Linked DNA regions of Homo sapiens: region 2 is linked to region 1. Evidence: fine-mapped expression QTL. Tissue or cell type: gastroesophageal junction. Region 1 holds a variant in brackets; the other region holds the start of a gene. All regions are shown on one strand. Distances are from middle to middle.

Region 1 (8,000 bases):
CCCGTTCAGCGGCCCTCGGCGTTGCAGAGCAGTTTGTTTAAGTTGAAAGGATGTAATTTTATGCTATTTAGCAAAAAAACACACACTCTGAATGGCATCATGAACTAAGGATTGGGGGTTGTGATCTTGGGGGGGGGGTGTCAAAAAATGGTTGTGAGGTCCCCCGTGACCACAGGTGCATGTGTAGAGGTGTATTCTGGAAACTTCTGCACGGAAGTGGCAGCCTCTGAGGTCACGCTAGTTCTGCCGTGGAGGGTGTCCGTGAGACCAGCTAAAACGGCCACTTCTGCATCTACTCAACTGGAAAACATACCATCTGGAAGAGATCTGGACTCCAGGGGCCCAGGAGCCCACCAGGAGCCTCCTGTGCAATCCCTCCCACCGTGGGCCCTGCTCTCAGAGAAGGACTGGCACAGCCAGCAGCCTGCTGGGAATGTCCAAAATCCAGGGAGGGGCTGGACAGGAGGGACATCTCTAAGCTGCGTCCCCCAGGAAGGAAGGAAGGCAGGGCACAGGGAAAGACGCAGCCTTGAGGCCTTGGAGAGGGTGGGTGAGGCCGTGTCACTCAACAGAGGACCCGGGGCAGAGGCTGGAGGCCTCGAACCTCCACTGGGAAGACCCGGAGGTTAGTTTTCCCTCTACTCATCTGTTTCCTAAAGATGCAGCAAAATCTGTTCTTTAAGAGGGGCCATGGGCTTGCTGTAAGGGCTGCCAGGAGAGGGCAGATTGGGGGGCGAATGCCCCACCCCAGAGAGGAGAGGTGCTGCCTCTCTTGAGCCTGAGGTAAGAGGAAAAACACAAGTGGTTGGTACTTACTCGTCCCTGTGTCACAGACTGCTCACCCACTATCAGAGTGTCCTTATTCCTTCCTAGCCAGGGGGCCCTGAACCCCCAACCTGGGCCCTTGGATCTGGAGTGGCCGCCACCACCAGGCACACGTCTTCCAAACAAATCACAGTAGCAGCAAAATCCAATCGATGGTAGTGCCTCTAGCTGCCTGTCCCCACTGACCTCCAGACCTCTGTAAAATAGACGGTCATTGAGAAGATCTAATTCCCACAAAAGATGGGTTCACACAGTCCCGCTGGCCTCAGCTTCATCATCCCCACCTCCGACGGCCTGGGATCTAACTGAGGGTGCACCACGGAACGCTGATGACGGCCTGGAATCTGAGGGTGCACCTCCGCACCTGCACCACGGAATGCCGATGACGGCCCAGCAGGTGCTCCTCTCTCTGCAGAGGCCTCCTGGAGCTAGCCTTGGTGTGGGCAGGGATGCAAGGGTGGGTGGACCCCAGTCACCCCATCCCCAACCCCTGGCCCTCCAGAGGAAGGGCCCATTTTACTTCCAGTGAATGGCACAGAGCTTAGGCCACAGCTCACTGGATTTGACAAACATCTACACCCAAGTAACCACCGTGCAGACCAAGATACAGAACATTCCAGCAACCCTAGAGGTGCCCACAAGCCCCTCAAAGGGGGCCCCGCATTCTAACAAGGCACTCGCCAAGGAGAGCAGGTCCTGTCCTCGGGGACAGACTTCTGGTTGGATTGGCAAATGCTCCCGCCCCGCTGTGGAAACAGCTTCAGGTCTCTTCTATTTCTTTTTTTTTTTTTTTGAGATGGAGTCTCACTCTGTCACCCAGGCTGGAGTGCACTGGCACATCTCGGCTTGCTGCAACTTCTGCCTCCTGGGTTCAAGCGATTCTCCTGCCTCAGCCTCCCAAGTAGCTGGGATTACAGGCATGTGCCACCACGCCTGGCTAATTTTGTATTTTTGGTAGAGACAGGGTTTCTCCATGTTGGTCAGGCTGGTCTCGAACTCCCGCCATCAGGGGATCCGTCCGCCTCGGCCTCCGAAAGTGATGGGATTACAGGCGTGAGCCACTGCGCTCGGCCTCTTCTATTTCCTGAAGCCATTGGCACTGACTAAACTCAGCAAGTGTTCACTGCACACCTACCCCGTGCTGGGTCCCTTGTGCACAGATGAGAGGTTCTGCCCGCGATCTGGGGAAACAGACCAGAAGTGAGCATCAGAACGTGCTGCCCGCAACTCAACGGAAGTGCACGGGAAGGTCTCGGCTACATAGAAGGGGTAAGCGTTAAGTGGGGTGGGGGAGCCGTCTGAGGTTGGTCACGCACCTCCATGCCTAGTTCATCTCCACCATTCCAGGAGACGAGTATCTGGAGCTCTTCGTGCAGATAAGAGAGAGAGAGAGAGAGAGACAGACAGACAGACAGAGAGACAGAGACAGAGAGACAGACACATGACTGCCCCAAGCAAGTGAGGAATGAATCTGTGTGTACCCTGCACCGCGAGGGAAGGGTTTTCCGGGCACAGTAACTGAATACAAATGATTTACACAACCACAGGGAAGGCTCTGGCAGTCCCCAGGAGACAGGCCATGGACTCGTGAAGCGTCCTTGTCTATTTACTGAGATCCTGCCATGCTCAGCAGTCGCTGCATTTCCACGCAGTTTGAGGGACTTCCTGGTGAAAACTAACAAGAAAATATATGGCATGTGTAACCACAAGACCAGAGGGGCCCTTCTTGACCTCTGCTTCCTCTCCTCTGACGTGGGCATGGCAGCCCGTCCCCTCCTGGGGACTGCTGACCCAGTGGGTGGTCCTGGTGGCTGCCACAAGGCAGGGGGCCTTTGCACGGGGCTCAGAGTCCCATCGGCCACTTCCTCCTGACTCTCAGGTGCCGCTGGCCCTCACCTGCACCTCACCCACCTGCTTCCCCTGTCCTGGAGCGTGGCGGTGAGGATGTTAGAACAGCCTGGTACCCAGCCACCCATCACCGCACGCGACCTAAGACAAGACAGGCACATAGAGGAGCGATGACATCATCACAACAAACATGAATGAGACTCCTTACAGACGTCCACATCCAACAGAAGGGACTTCCACGAGCAGGAGTTTTTTTCAGGCCAAGAAGGGACAACATCGTCCCAGGCAGAGAGGGACAGTCTAGAGGTATACCAGGATGGCGTGGTCAGGAACAGAGCCCTCCCCTGCCAGGGCGTCAGGTCCATCTGGGAACGGGCAGGTGTCAGCACATGGACAGACCACACCCATCAAGCTAAGCTGTCTCGACTCTGCAGGTAGGCACTGGGGCTCTAGGAGTTTCCAAGCCAAGGGTAACATCACGTGGGCCCATAACTGGAGGGTGTAGGGAGTCCTGGAGTCCCCTGAGTCTGGGGTTAGAAGAACTAAAGGTCCCCTCAGCCAGAAGCTTCTGATTCGTCCAAAGTCCCCACTGCACCCACTTCTGCAAAGTGTCTGGGATGGCCACATCGCCTGTCCCTGTCTGGTCCTCACTCTTTCCTGGTCTGGCTGCTTAACTCCAGACCCACCGAAAGCTCAGCAGGCCCCACCAGGCCATCCTGGGAAGTGTCCCAGCCCTCGCTGAGACCTTCCAGGAGCGTGGGAAGAGAAGACATGTGGCGCTAGGCTTTGGAGAGGAGGACAGTCCCTGCTCTGCTCCAGAAGAAGTTCCCAGGGCCTTTGATATCTCTGTGGCTGGTTAAACACACACGCTCATGCAGTATATTCACTTTCATCAAGAGAAAAAGGATCACGGCAATCGGTCCAGTGGTCACCCCTGTCCCCGACACACTCCCTCTGACCTGCGTCTAACTGGAAGCTTCAGGAACATAGCCCAAAGATCTGAGAGCAAACCCCAGTCCTGCCACCTAAGGGTTATGAGACCCTGAACAAGTTACTCAAACTCCCCGAGCCCCAGTTTCCCTCCTCTGTAAACAGGGAGAACTAACGTTCACACAGGTTTGCCCTGACAGTTAAAACAGAAGCACATGGCCGGGCGCGGTGGCTCACGCCTGTAATCCCAGCACTTTGCGAGGCTGAGACGGGCGGATCACGAGGTCAGGAGATCGAGACCATCCTGGCTAACACGGTGAAACCCTGTCTCTACTAAAAACACAAAAAATTAGCCGGGCGTGGTGGCGGGCGCCTGTAGTCCCAGCTGCTCGGGAGGCTGAGGCAGGAGAATGGCGTGAACCCGGGAGGTGGAGCTTGCAGTGAGCCGAGATCGAGCCACTGCACTCTAGCCTGGGCGACAGAGCAAGACTCCGCCTCAAAAACAAACAAACAAACAAAAAAAAAACAGAAGCACATGGCTCACACCTGGCACCTTGGAGGCCCCAAGAAACTGGCAGGTCTCATGGGAGAGGGCAACAGGGCCTTCTGCAGCTGTGACTTCAAGCTGTTTAACCTCCTGAGCCTCAGTTTCCTCATCTGTAAGATGGAGATGTTGATGCCAGCTTCACAGGGGGAGCAGAGTTAGCGAGACTAGAAAAGTGTTCAGCTCAAGAAGGGGTGGCTCTGCCCTGTCTCTGCCCGCCTCGGGGAAGCTCCAACCTCGCACGAACCCACTCTGGGCTGGGGCCCAGAGCTGAGCC[T/C]GGCGCCACGCCGTGCTGCCCAGGAGACACACCACATTCTGTTCTCTCTGCTGGGGTATTTTTAGAAGGAACAGCACTTCTAACTGTGCAAATAACGTGTTGAAAATAAGCTTTAGATTTTGACTTAAATGTACTAGGAGAGGCGGAAACATTCCTTGTCCTCCAAATACCGTGGAGAACATCTTTTTGGAGGGTCCTGAAGAACCCGGCTGCTGTCTTCACTCCTGGGATGAATGGGCCAAGCCCCCTCCCGGGAGAGCTACGGAACGGGGCTGTGGGGTCCGCCTTGTCACCTGCATGAGCCCTGGAGTGCTCCTCCCTGGCCATGTCCAGTGGAGACGGCACAGGGGAAGCTGCAGGTCCCGCCTGGTTCTGAAGGCGGCTCCTTGTAGAGAGGCCGCAGCCTCAGGCCGACTGTCTCTCTGGCCCAGCAGAAATGCTGGCTCCTGGCCTGTGGCCCTCATCTCTCCCTGTATACCGGCAGCCCTGTCGCCTCCTGTCCCCAGCCCCTCTCCTTCGAGCTCCAGATCTGCGTGTGACATCCCACCTGGATGCCTCGCTGCCCACTCGAGACAGGACCGCCTCCTGCCATCCGTTACTGGTGAGCCCTTGCAAGTGGCTAACCTGAGCTGAGACGGGTTTCAAGTGGGACCTTGAAGACTCATGAAAAGATATTAAAGTATCTAATTAATATTTTAAAAATGAAGTACATGCTGAAATAATATCTTGGACATATTGGATTACATAAAATAATTATTAAAATGATTTTCACCCCCCCAGGTTAATTTCACTTGTTTCTTTTTACTTTTTTTATTGTGGCTTACCAGAAGATTTAAACTTACACATATGGCTCTCACTGCGCTTTTATTAGACAATGCTGTTCTACAGGAAACTTGTAATTTAAGACAAAAGTTGTGGACATCCACTTTCTTTCTTTTTTTTTTTTTTTTCCTGAGATGGAGTTTCACTCTTATTGCCCAGGCTGGAGTGCAATGGCGCAATTTCGGCTTACTGCAACCTCCACCTCCCGGGATTGTCCTGCCTCAGCCTCCTGAGTAGCTGGGATTACAGGTGCCCGCCACCACACCCAGCTACTTTTTTGTATTTTTAGTAGAGGTGAGGTTTCACCATGTTGGCCAGGATGGTCTCGAACTCCTGACCTCAAGTGATCCAACTGCCTCGGCCTCCCAAACTGCTGGGATTACAGGCATGAACCACCGCACCCGGCTGAACATTCGCTTCTGCTGAAGAAGTGGAAGGATGAGAAAACTTTAACTCCATGGTAACATCAAAACACACCCAGACAAAATAAAAATCCTATTCATCCCCAAGAGCAGTGACTACGAGAAAGCCTTGAAGGACCAAGTTCCAGGGAGAAAGGAGCCTCAAAGGCTGGGCAGAGACGGAGACATCACAGCCAGGCGGCCACCAGGTGTGAACACAGGTGCACACTCAGCACAGGTGCAGGCCGCTGAGGACGGAGACCCAAGTGGGCTGAGCTGGGCCATCACGGAGTAGCCGGGTCTCTCACAAACCACTGCAGGAGTGGGAGGCAGTGCGAACACTTCAAAAAATAGTTGGGTCATTTCTTACAAAACTAAACACACACCTGTGCTCTCTGACCCAGCAATTTCACTCCTAGGTGTTTACACAAGAGAAATGAAAACCTGTATCCCCAAAACATCATGTGCATGAAAATTCGGAGCAGCTTTATTCATAATCTCTTAAAAGGGAAAACAACTCAAATGTCCATCAACTGGTGAGTGGGCAAACCTACTGTGGGACCCCCACGCCACGGGATGCCACTGAGAAACACGCAGGGAAAGAATGACGAATACTCTCGATGACACGGAGGAGCCTCATAGCACTGCGTGGAACGAAGGGAGCCCACACAAAGGCCGCAGGCCTCCCCGGACATGAGGCTCAAGAAGCAGCAAAACTAATCCCTGGTGATGAAATCTCAACAGCGGGTGCTCTGCGGGACGCATCGCGCAGGTGCAGAATTTTCTGAGGTGATGCAAATGCTCTATTTTGGAGTATAAGTTACCTGGGTGTACACAACTGTCAAAACTCATCCAGCAGTACAATCAAAATCTGTGAATTTCAATGTATGCAAATTTTATCTCAAATTTTAAAAATCTATGTATTTTATTTTTGAGACAGAGTCTCGCTGTGTCACCCAGGATGGAGTGTAGTACCTCGATCTCGGCTCACTGCAACCTCCACCTCCCAGGTTCAAGCCATTCTCATGCCTCAGTCTCCCGAGTAGCTGGGATTACAGATGCCTGCCACCATGCCTGGTTTTTTGTTTTTTTGAGACAGAGTCTCACTCTCTTGCCCAGGCTGGAGTGCAGTGGCGCGGACTTGGCTCACTGCAACCTCTGCCTCCCAGGTTCAAGCCATTCTCATGCCTCAGCCTCCAGAGTAGCTGGGATTACAGGCACCTGCCATCATGCATGGTTGATTTTTGTATTTTTAGTAGAGACAGGGTTTCTCCATGTTGGCCAGGCTGGTATCAACTCCTGATCTCAAGTGGTCCGCCTGCCTTGGCCTCCCAAAGTGCTGGGACTACAGGCGTGAGCCACTGCGCCCAAAAAATCTATATATTTTAAGAAGGACAAGAGCTGCAGCTCCAACCCTCATAGAAAGGCAGGGCCAAGGGGGCAGCTAGAGGAGCCCAGCTGGTGCACAGACCTATGCCCTCTCAGGGGCAGCACTGATAGACCCTCATTATGGCAGCTGCATGGCTAAGATGCTTCATCTGGAATGGAATCAATATTCATAGTTATGTCAATGAGGGCCTGAAAAATAAGGTGCCATCTCTAGGAGGAGACCCAGGACCAGGATCAGGAACAGGTTCTGGGTGGCACTGAATATGGGGCAGGAAATCTGGATGCGCCATTATGGAAATAAATGCACTCTGGCCTCACTGATGACCAGGAAGGCACTAAGGAAGGACTCGTGTCTCGCTTCTCTGCTATGCATTGATAGCACCTGGACCTGCAGAAAAGCAGGAGCTGGTTGAGGACTGAAAAAGACCAAGGACTTCACAAAACCTCCACCAGGCTGCTGGGCTGCACACACACGGCGCCTCCAGTGCGTGAGCTCAGAGCCGGCACCGACCATCTGCAGCAGCTGCACAAGCGCAGGCCCTTCCTGCCTTCTGCCAAGACCCCTTAGGAGCCTCCAGTAGAAAACTCAAGATCGGCTCAGACAGGGCTGGGGAAGAGGGAGACTCCCGCTGAGCCAAAAGCAGGCTGCTGTGATGAGCCAGGGACTGCGGGAAGCTGCACGACCCATAGAGGCAGGAGACGCTCCTTCACCCACGGCTGGGGAGACTCTGAAGCTCCAGGGTGCAGTTAGGTAAGTGGAGAAGGAGAGAGGGCTGTGGGTAGAACACGTCTGAGCTCTGCCCCAGGACTGCCATGTGTGACTGGTGTCCCCACCTGAGGCCTTACCTGTCACCTTGCAAAGTTGCCGCGAAGTTTCAATGAAATGCAGGAAGCACTGCGCACTGAGCAAATGCCAAGGTTCTCCCACTGGACCTCCCACGAGCTTCCCAGGTGGGGGCGGCAG
Region 2 (8,000 bases), 74 kb after region 1:
TTACGCTGGGTCTTTAACTTACACAGAAGGGCTTGTTGCTTGACAATTTAGATAAAAATGTTACTGCCCCTGCATGTGCTGCAATCTCATGGTGTAAACCACTGGAGCAGCTAATGGAGTCTTCACACATCATATCTTGTTAAAGAAGAGGGCCCTCCACTATCTGAATCACAGCCCAGCAGCAAAGTGCAGCCACACCTGGGAAGGCAGCTTAGCTGGCCTGGGCCTGGCCACAACTCATCAGCTCTGACCAACTATCCTATGCCTCATTTTTTTTTTTAGTGGAAAATATGAACTTCATTTTCAAATAGCAAGGTCCTATGTAAACTCACTTCCTGTTAATTCCCTAGTCTCCGAATGGTAGGACAAAAACTAGACAGTTACACAGAAAACATATCTCTATCTACCCTGACCAATAAGCTATCTACCACTATGAGTCCTTTAAACACCTTTACACACTTGTCCATGTTTCTTAAAGTAACTGAGAAAAACATCGCGCTAAGGGCATGAATGAGAAATTCATGGTTGGGCCCTGAAAGACAGGATTCCGCTGCTGGCGTACTGCTAACAGACCTGGATAACGGGGTCATCTGTTCATTTTACTATCTAGTTCATCATCCACATGTGCACTTTTAATTGAAACTTAACCTTTATATCCGATGTTCCAGCACAGAAAACATCTCTGGAGGTGGAGATGGTATAAGCGTTTCCCTAAGCGACTCTCTAAAAGAATTCTACCTTTAATTTTCTGTTGAGTTAAATAAACAAACTGTGACACACTTGCCTTTTCACCTCCACTCCCCCATTTCGGCTCCTTCTGGGCAGGCTCTGGGGTGACCAAGTAGAGGCCTCTTCAAAACCCTAGTTCAGCCCAGAGTCACCTCCAAAGGCTTGTTCATCGACCTTTCCCCAGCTAAGCTGCCAATCACCACCAAACTCTCCCAAGGAGAGGGAGAGGGGAGTAAATGTTAAGTCTCCCTAACTCATTTCATAGGTGACCTCTGAAAGATTTCAACGCAGAGCCTGGGAAAGACAAGGCGGCTTTATTAGCATGCTGAACCACGGCCGCAGCCCCCTCCCCTCCCTCTTTTATGAGCCCTTGTTATATAAAATGCCACAAAGGGAAATGGAAAAACAACACCCTCGCAGTTAAAAACACAAGTTCCAATGGCCAGGCCAAATCCTGGCTGCTTACCCAATGTTGTTTAGTCATTTAAAAGGGAAACATTTCTAAAAGGCCGGAGAAAAAAAGTTTTCCTTGCTTTCTTTCTTTTTAAACACACACTCACACACACAAAAAGATGGAGGTCAGTTCGCAAGCAAGCCTCCTTCCCGGAGTTCAAATTTAAAGGCAAAGGCAGCCCGGAGTCGGAGAGCTCCTTCCCGAAGCTGCCGCAACCTTCAAACAGGATTTTCAAATGTTTCTTTCGGCTTATCTAAATTCCGGCATGACAGATAATAAATAGCGACTCATTTACTATCATCATAAAAATTTAAACAGCCTCGAAATAGTTGCTACAATACAGAAGAAATGATCAAACCCAAGCTCAGAAGAGTCATTCCAAATAGTAAAACTACTGCCAAGCAGAAACATAAAGAGACATTGTTCCAAGAAAAGCTCCTAGGTTATTGGATTTTTTCTTCTTCTCTCTCTCTTTTAAATCTTCTAGGAGCGTACGAGTCAACAACTTGCCGTTTTACCCAGTGAAAAAAGGGCTTAGTAACCCTCAGCTATCACACTGGACCAGATCTGGTGGCAGATTTTTTTTTTTTTTTAAAGAAAGTATCTGATTTGATTCTACGCAGTGATTAAACAGCTTTGTGCTCTGCGGAAAAGGGTCTTCCGACCCCTCCCCCTCCAAAAATGGCATCAAAGCAATCAAAATGGTAATGCAGGGCCTGGGTCCCCTCCCCCCGCCAACTCCCCGACTTCGCCGGGGCCGCGCGCCGGGCCCCCCTCCGGCGGGAATGGAAGCTTCCACTCCCGGACGGGGGCGCGCGGCCGGGGGCGGGGGGGCCGCGGCACCAACTGAAAAGGGTTAGCGCATTTGTCCCAAGCCTTCGGTCCAGCCCGGCGGCCCAGACCAGGCGCGGGCCGCGGCACTGCCATCTTCCTTTCAGCAAGCCCGGCCCCCCCCAAAACCCGCCACTCGCGCACGCCCCCTCCCATCACTTTTTAACTTTAAAGACTCGACACGAACGCCCGGCCTCCGAATTCTCTCTCGCCAGGGTCACCGGCAGCCGCCCCAACCTCGTCCACGTCTCTCCCCTACGCCAGAAAATCCCCCGGGGGAGGGGGCGTCCGATCCGGCGGCCCGGGCTGGGGTGGGAGCGCGGGGGCAGGCCCGGGCGGGGGCGCGCGGGGGCGGGCCCGGAGCTGTCCAAGTTTGGCGCTGGCGGCTGCGGCCGGCATTCCGAAGGAAACGCGATCGATGGCCGGGGGCGCGGCGCGGGCGGGGGCGGGGCGCGAAGGAGGGAGGGAGGGGGCAGCGGAGGGAGGGAGGGGCGCCGCCGCCCCCGTGCCCGCCACAGCGGTGCCCCCAGCACGCCATTGGCTGCGCCGCTCAAAGTTCTCGGCTCGGGGCTGCGCGGGGAAGGGGCGGGTGTGCGAGCGCGGGGAAGGGGCGGGTGTGCGAGTGCGGGGAGGGGGCGCGGCGGGGGAGGGGCAGCGGAGGAGGGGCGGGAGCCAGGGGGCGGGGGCGCGCGGCCGGCCGGGCTCTGGCGGCGGCATCTGTTCGTGGTGCTGAAACCCCGAGCGCTGAGCTCAGCGCAACTAAGTCACAATGGACAACTTTTCCTCCCCGGAGGGGGCCCGGAGGGGGGGGAGCGGTCGCGCCTCCGACGCGTGGGAGCTTCTCAGGTGTCCCCAACTACACCTAACGCCCGGAGCCCAAAGTTGGAGCAGAACTGGGGAGTCCCGGGGGCGCGTTTCTTTTGTTCCCCGGGAGCTGGCGTCAGGTTCCAAGAATAAAAAGTGAAGCTAGGGAAGTGGAAGGTGGTGGGGGGGAGGGAGCCTCGAGGAACGATTTCAAAACGAGGTTTGCCACGGAACCCAGAAATCGCTTCCAACGAGTTTGGTGTCCAGGCCCCCACGGCCGCCCCCCTCCGCCCCCATGGCCGCCTCAGCGCAAAGCGGGGGACTCCGAGCCGGGAGAAATCGCCACGTTCCAAAAACATGTCCACCACCTCAAAATGGACGCCGGGCCGCGCGCTGCCTTTTAAGTGAGCTCCTCTCTTCGGCCCCCGCAGGGCCCGGCTCTCCCTGCCGCCTCCGAGAACCCGGCTCTTTCTTTCCAGGAAAGGGGAGGGGTGGGGAACTTTGAGAACTGGAGACAGACCCCTCTGGGAGTCTGAGCGTGCGTCGCCCAGGCTGGCACTTTTTAGGGCGCCGCCAAAGTGCCCAGCCACCCTCCCGCCCCATCCCAGGGGGGGCCGCGATCCCATCGCTTACTTGTTTGTCGCTGAGCGCGGCGATCCGCGGCTGCCTTTCGTGGAGCTGCTTCTTGAGGTCGCCGTTCTGCGGAAACACGGAGGAGCGGGCTCAGGCAGGCCACCCGGGGTCAGGTGCACCCCAGCACCGCGGGCCGCGGCACCCCCCGCCCGGAGCCCCACGGGCGGGGCCGGCCGCAGCGCACCCCAAGTTTCCCGGGCCGCGTCCTGCACGCGCGGCGGCCGGGCAGTGCCGCGCGGGGCCGCTTACCTGTGGCTGCCGCCTCATCGGGGCAGCTCGCGGGGCGGGGCGGGGGCCGAGGCCACCCGGCGGCGCGCCCCGAGCCGTGCAAGTTTGCAGGCCGGGGTGCGTGTGCGAGTGAGTGTGAGTGTGAGTGTGTGCCGGGGGAGGGGGGAGGAACAAAGAGCCAAGTAAACACGGCGAGTCCGTGTCGAGCAAAGCTCATAAATATTCAAGTCGCGTCCTAATCTCCCCAACACACACACGCGCACGCCGAGCCCCGCTCAGGCTCCGGCCGCCACGCCGCCGCTCGCCAGCAGCGATCGCCAAAACTACTTCTGCACACCGGGCAGGTTCGCCCGGGGCGCGGGGGCCCGAGGGGAGGCCGGAAGGGGGCCTATTCGCACTCCCCTCCCCGGGACCGGCTCACGAAGGGGCCCCCTCCAGGCACCCTCCCAGTCATGCAGACCCTACATCGCTTAAGAGAAGACTCCAGGCTCGGGTCCCACGCGTCCTCGATCCCGCAAACTGTGCAGGACAGCGCCAGGGGCAGGCGGAGGGGAGCCCAGAAGGGGGTCCGCGCGTGTGCTCACTCCCTCGCCCCCCGCCCCCGGGCAGGCTCCAGCCTGGAAGACCCAGAGACCCGGAAGAGAGGATGCTGGGCTCGGGTCCCCCGACCCCCTCACCCCGCAACACACTCCCCGGCCCCGGGCCCGGCCCCCGGCCACCTACCTGGTGGCGCGCGAGTTCCACGGCGAGCGCCTCGGGCCGGCTCTGCAGCTCCATCCCGGCAACTTGGGCAGCACTTTGCGCTCACTTTGGCCCGGGCTCCCGGGAAGTTGCGCGGCTCCGCGGGGGCCAGAGCGGGCGCGGGCGGACGCGGCCTCCGGGCTGGGTTGGGGGGGACACGAGCCCCCTCCCCCACGGCCGAAAGGGAAGGGGGCTGGCGAAGGGGAAGACAGGCTTCCGGGCGCCGCGGCGCCGAGCCCTCGGCTGCCCCAACTCCTCAGGCTGCCCGGCAAGTTGCGCCGGGTCCCCGGGCTGCCGGCGCGGCCCGGAGCATGGCCCCCCCGGCGCCGGGAGCCCCGCGCAGCCCCGCGCGCGCCCGCCCAGCCGCCGCCGCCGCCGCCTCCTCCCGCGCGAGCCTCCCGCGGGCAGGGACTATATTTCCTCCGGCGCGCGCGCCTGGATCTCGTTGGGCCTCGGCAAAGTTGTGCCTCGGCACGATGCTAATTCGGCAGTGCCCGGATGGAGCGGGCCGGGGCGGCGGGGGGCGGTGCCGGGACCCTCAGCCCGCCGCGCCCCGCCCCCGCCCCGCCCGCGCCTGCGCACTGCCGCCCCGCCGCGGCCCGGCACCCCGAGCGGAGAACAAAAGTGGCGGTGGACGGGGACGCACGGTCGCCGGCTCCGGGGACTGCTCGGGCCGGGCGCTCGGAGAGGACGACTGCGGAGTCATCCTCTCCGTCCCCGGGCCAACCCGGGGAACGCGGCGCCCCCACCCCCTGCGCCGTGTAACGCCGGGATCAGGACACTTTCCGCTGGGAGGCTGCGAGTCCGTGTTTCCATTTCTCCTCACCCTGGTCCTCGGCTCCCTCCTTTCCCCCCTCCTCCGCCTCCCTCTGATATTTTATTTAAATTCTTCCGTCCCCTCCTGTCCATACCAGCGCCGCGACTTGGGGGATTAAATTAGTCGCGTCGCCACATTCCCCCGCCGCCTGATGGCCTCCGTGTTGTTTAAACAGCAAGAAAATTGATCTCTTGGCTCTTCCTTTAATGATTTTTTTTTACACGATTAAACTCTCAACAGATGTCACTGGACATTTTAAGACTCTTGTTAAGAGTCGTAAACAGGCCCGGTCAATGCGACCTAAAACAATTATAATTACAGCTGCGGAGGTCGCGTTTCAGAACCCCCAGCCGCGCAGCCAGGAGGTTAATGTCCCAGAGTCACTGTCACCACCTCGGGGCTGCCATCTTCATTCAGGTCGGAGTGCCGGGTGCCCTGTTGGCAGCAAACTGGCACGTTTGAAACACGCTGGGGAGAAAGGGTGCAATCATATGTCAAAGTAAACGTTTAAGCTGTTAAGTCGTTTTAACTTCAGATTCCTCTCCGGCAGCACAAAAAATACCCAAGCAAGCACCATCAGCAAATGTCCCTTTCAACATATGCCAACAGGTCACACATTGCTTTTGTTGGCAGAAGTTATTGGAATTCCCCCTTTTCTTTCTTTTCTTTTTTTTTTTTTTTTCAAGTGAGGACCCCAGTGTTGTTCTGCTCTCTGTTAGGGAATTTGTAATAAATTACGTGTTTGGGACCCCCAAACACAGATGGCCCCTCATCCCACAACCCAGCACCTCGCCTTCAGAGCACGACAGAGTGAGACTTAGGATATGAGTAACTATGCAAAAAGCAGAGGGGCATGTAGATGACCCTTACTTTAACCCAAATTAGTTAACAGAAACTTGCAAACAGCGCTTTAAGACTCCATAGGAGGCCGGCCGGGGGCGGTGGCTCACACCTGTAATCCCAGTACTTTGGGAGGCCGAAGTGGGCAGATCACGAGGTCAGGAGTTCGAGACCAGCCTGCCCAACATGGTCTCGACTAAAAATACAAAAAATTAGGCATGGTGGCGCAAGCCTGTAATCCCAGCTACTCGGGAGGCTGAGGCAGGAGAGTTGCTTCAACCCAGGAGGCAGAGGTTGCAGTGAGCCGAGATTGCACCACAGCACTCCAGTCTGGGCAACAGAGCAAGACTCTGTCTCAGAAAAAACAAACAAACAAACAGAAAAGACTCAACAGGAGGAGCCACTACCCTCCGGCCAGCATCTGCCTGAATCTGTGTGGGCCGAAGATGACCTGAATAACCTCTGTTGATTTAATTACGTAGGTTAAATATGTGGGTTACGGTAAGGATCATATACATGCCCCTCTGTTTTTTGCATAGTTACTTACTGTGTGAGTCTCATTCTGTCGTGCAGGCTAATGTGCAGTGGTGAAATCATAGCTCACCACTGCCTCCACCTCACCTGCTCAAGCAATCCTCCCACCTCAGCCTCCCAAGTAGCTGGGACCACAGTCACACCATAAGCCAACACTGGTTAATGTGGATGCAAAACTAGCCCGTGTTTGAAGTGGTCGTGATTCCTTTGGTTTTGCCCCAAGCAGGGAGAAGCAAGGTTCCTCAAATGCAAAACAAAGAGGCTGACTCAGGGTGCCCCAATAGGTACCCACTCCTCCCACTTCTGGGTTTAGCCCGGGTCAGGGTGGTGGCCTCCCTCCTTAGTGCTTTTGCTGGGCTGAACACCAGCCCAGGAAAGTGGACTGCCCTGGAGACCCATGCTTGGAGAGCCAGAGAGAAAGTGTGCAGAAAGAGGATTCCTACTGTAATCTCTGTAAATGCCACTGGCTTCTTGGTAAAAATTCAGAGTAATTTTATCAGCCACGTAGGGTAATTAAATCAACAGAGGATATTCAGGTCATCTTCAGTCCACACAGTCTCAGGCTGATGCTGGCCAGAGGATAGTGGCTCCGACTGTGGAATCTTAAAGCACTGTTTAAGTGCATGGTGTAGCAAAAGATCCGACAGAGACAGCAGAGACACAGGGCCCCTGTGTTAAACACAGAGCGAGAAAAATGACTGACAGGCAAAGGAAGGGTTAATTCTGAGAGGGGTGGTCTGAGAGGGGCTTGTCAAGAAGTAACTTGAGCAGAGCCTTGAGAATGTAGTAATACTGTTTGTTCTGAGTTTTACCATCCACATGGCACTCTTCATACCTGTTGTCTCCTGCCCTCGTTGAGTTCCGGGGGTAGGTCTGGTATCCCTATTTTACAGGTTAGAGGACTGAGGCTCAGGGCATTAGGTTACTTACAAGCCCTGTTGCCTGGAATTGGACCCACAGACTCAGGCAGCAGAGACCTGGATAGATGTGTAGCCTCTTCCCCGTCAGGGCTGGGAGATCTGGGCCAGTGGCTGAGGATGGATTTGCTTCCAGAGAAGAGCAGGCATAAGCCATGGGCCTGGGGTAGGCTGCAGGAGGGATCTCAGGGGGCCTGCAGTGCTCACTGGAGGAGAAAAACAGGACAGAAAAGATGGCAGGACCAGACCCCAAGGTCCTACAACACCATGCTGGGGTTTTAAATGTGTTATGTGGACAAGGGGACCTGCCCAAGGTTTCCGCACAGGGGTATGAGACATGACCAGGCCTCTGCTCAGAGATGACCTGGTGGTAATGTGAAGGATATGGTGGAAACTGGATGTGGGGGCCAGTCAGGAGATGGGGGCCATGGTTAGTGAGAGAGGCACCTCTCTTGAGATTGGGGAGGGGGAG

Alleles and levels. Alleles are on the strand shown, and positions count from the first base shown. SD is a standard deviation of normalised expression in the study named.
For the expression in gastroesophageal junction of the gene that starts at base 4,912 in region 2, allele T in region 1 goes with a higher level than allele C (small effect, 0.39 SD a copy in GTEx).

The links. PIP is the estimated chance that this variant, and not a neighbour inherited with it, causes the effect.
Region 2: it holds the start of PHF21B, and the variant in region 1 is fine-mapped to the expression of PHF21B in gastroesophageal junction (GTEx, PIP above 0.99).

What each region holds. Positions count from the first base shown.
Region 1 is chr22:44,931,513-44,939,512 of GRCh38, forward strand. All of the region lies in intron 2 of PHF21B (PHD finger protein 21B), which reads right to left. Among named protein-coding and RNA genes, the nearest start is that of PHF21B, 74 kb to the right of the region's middle. RefSeq lists enhancers at 725-1,226, 7,324-8,000. The variant T/C (reference allele first, on the strand shown) is at 4,425.
Region 2 is chr22:45,005,094-45,013,093 of GRCh38, forward strand. It overlaps PHF21B (PHD finger protein 21B), which reads right to left and starts at 4,912. Exons shown (of 13, transcript NM_138415.5): 1 at 4,403-4,912; 2 at 3,452-3,517. The coding sequence starts at 4,456. RefSeq lists an enhancer at 3,291-3,892.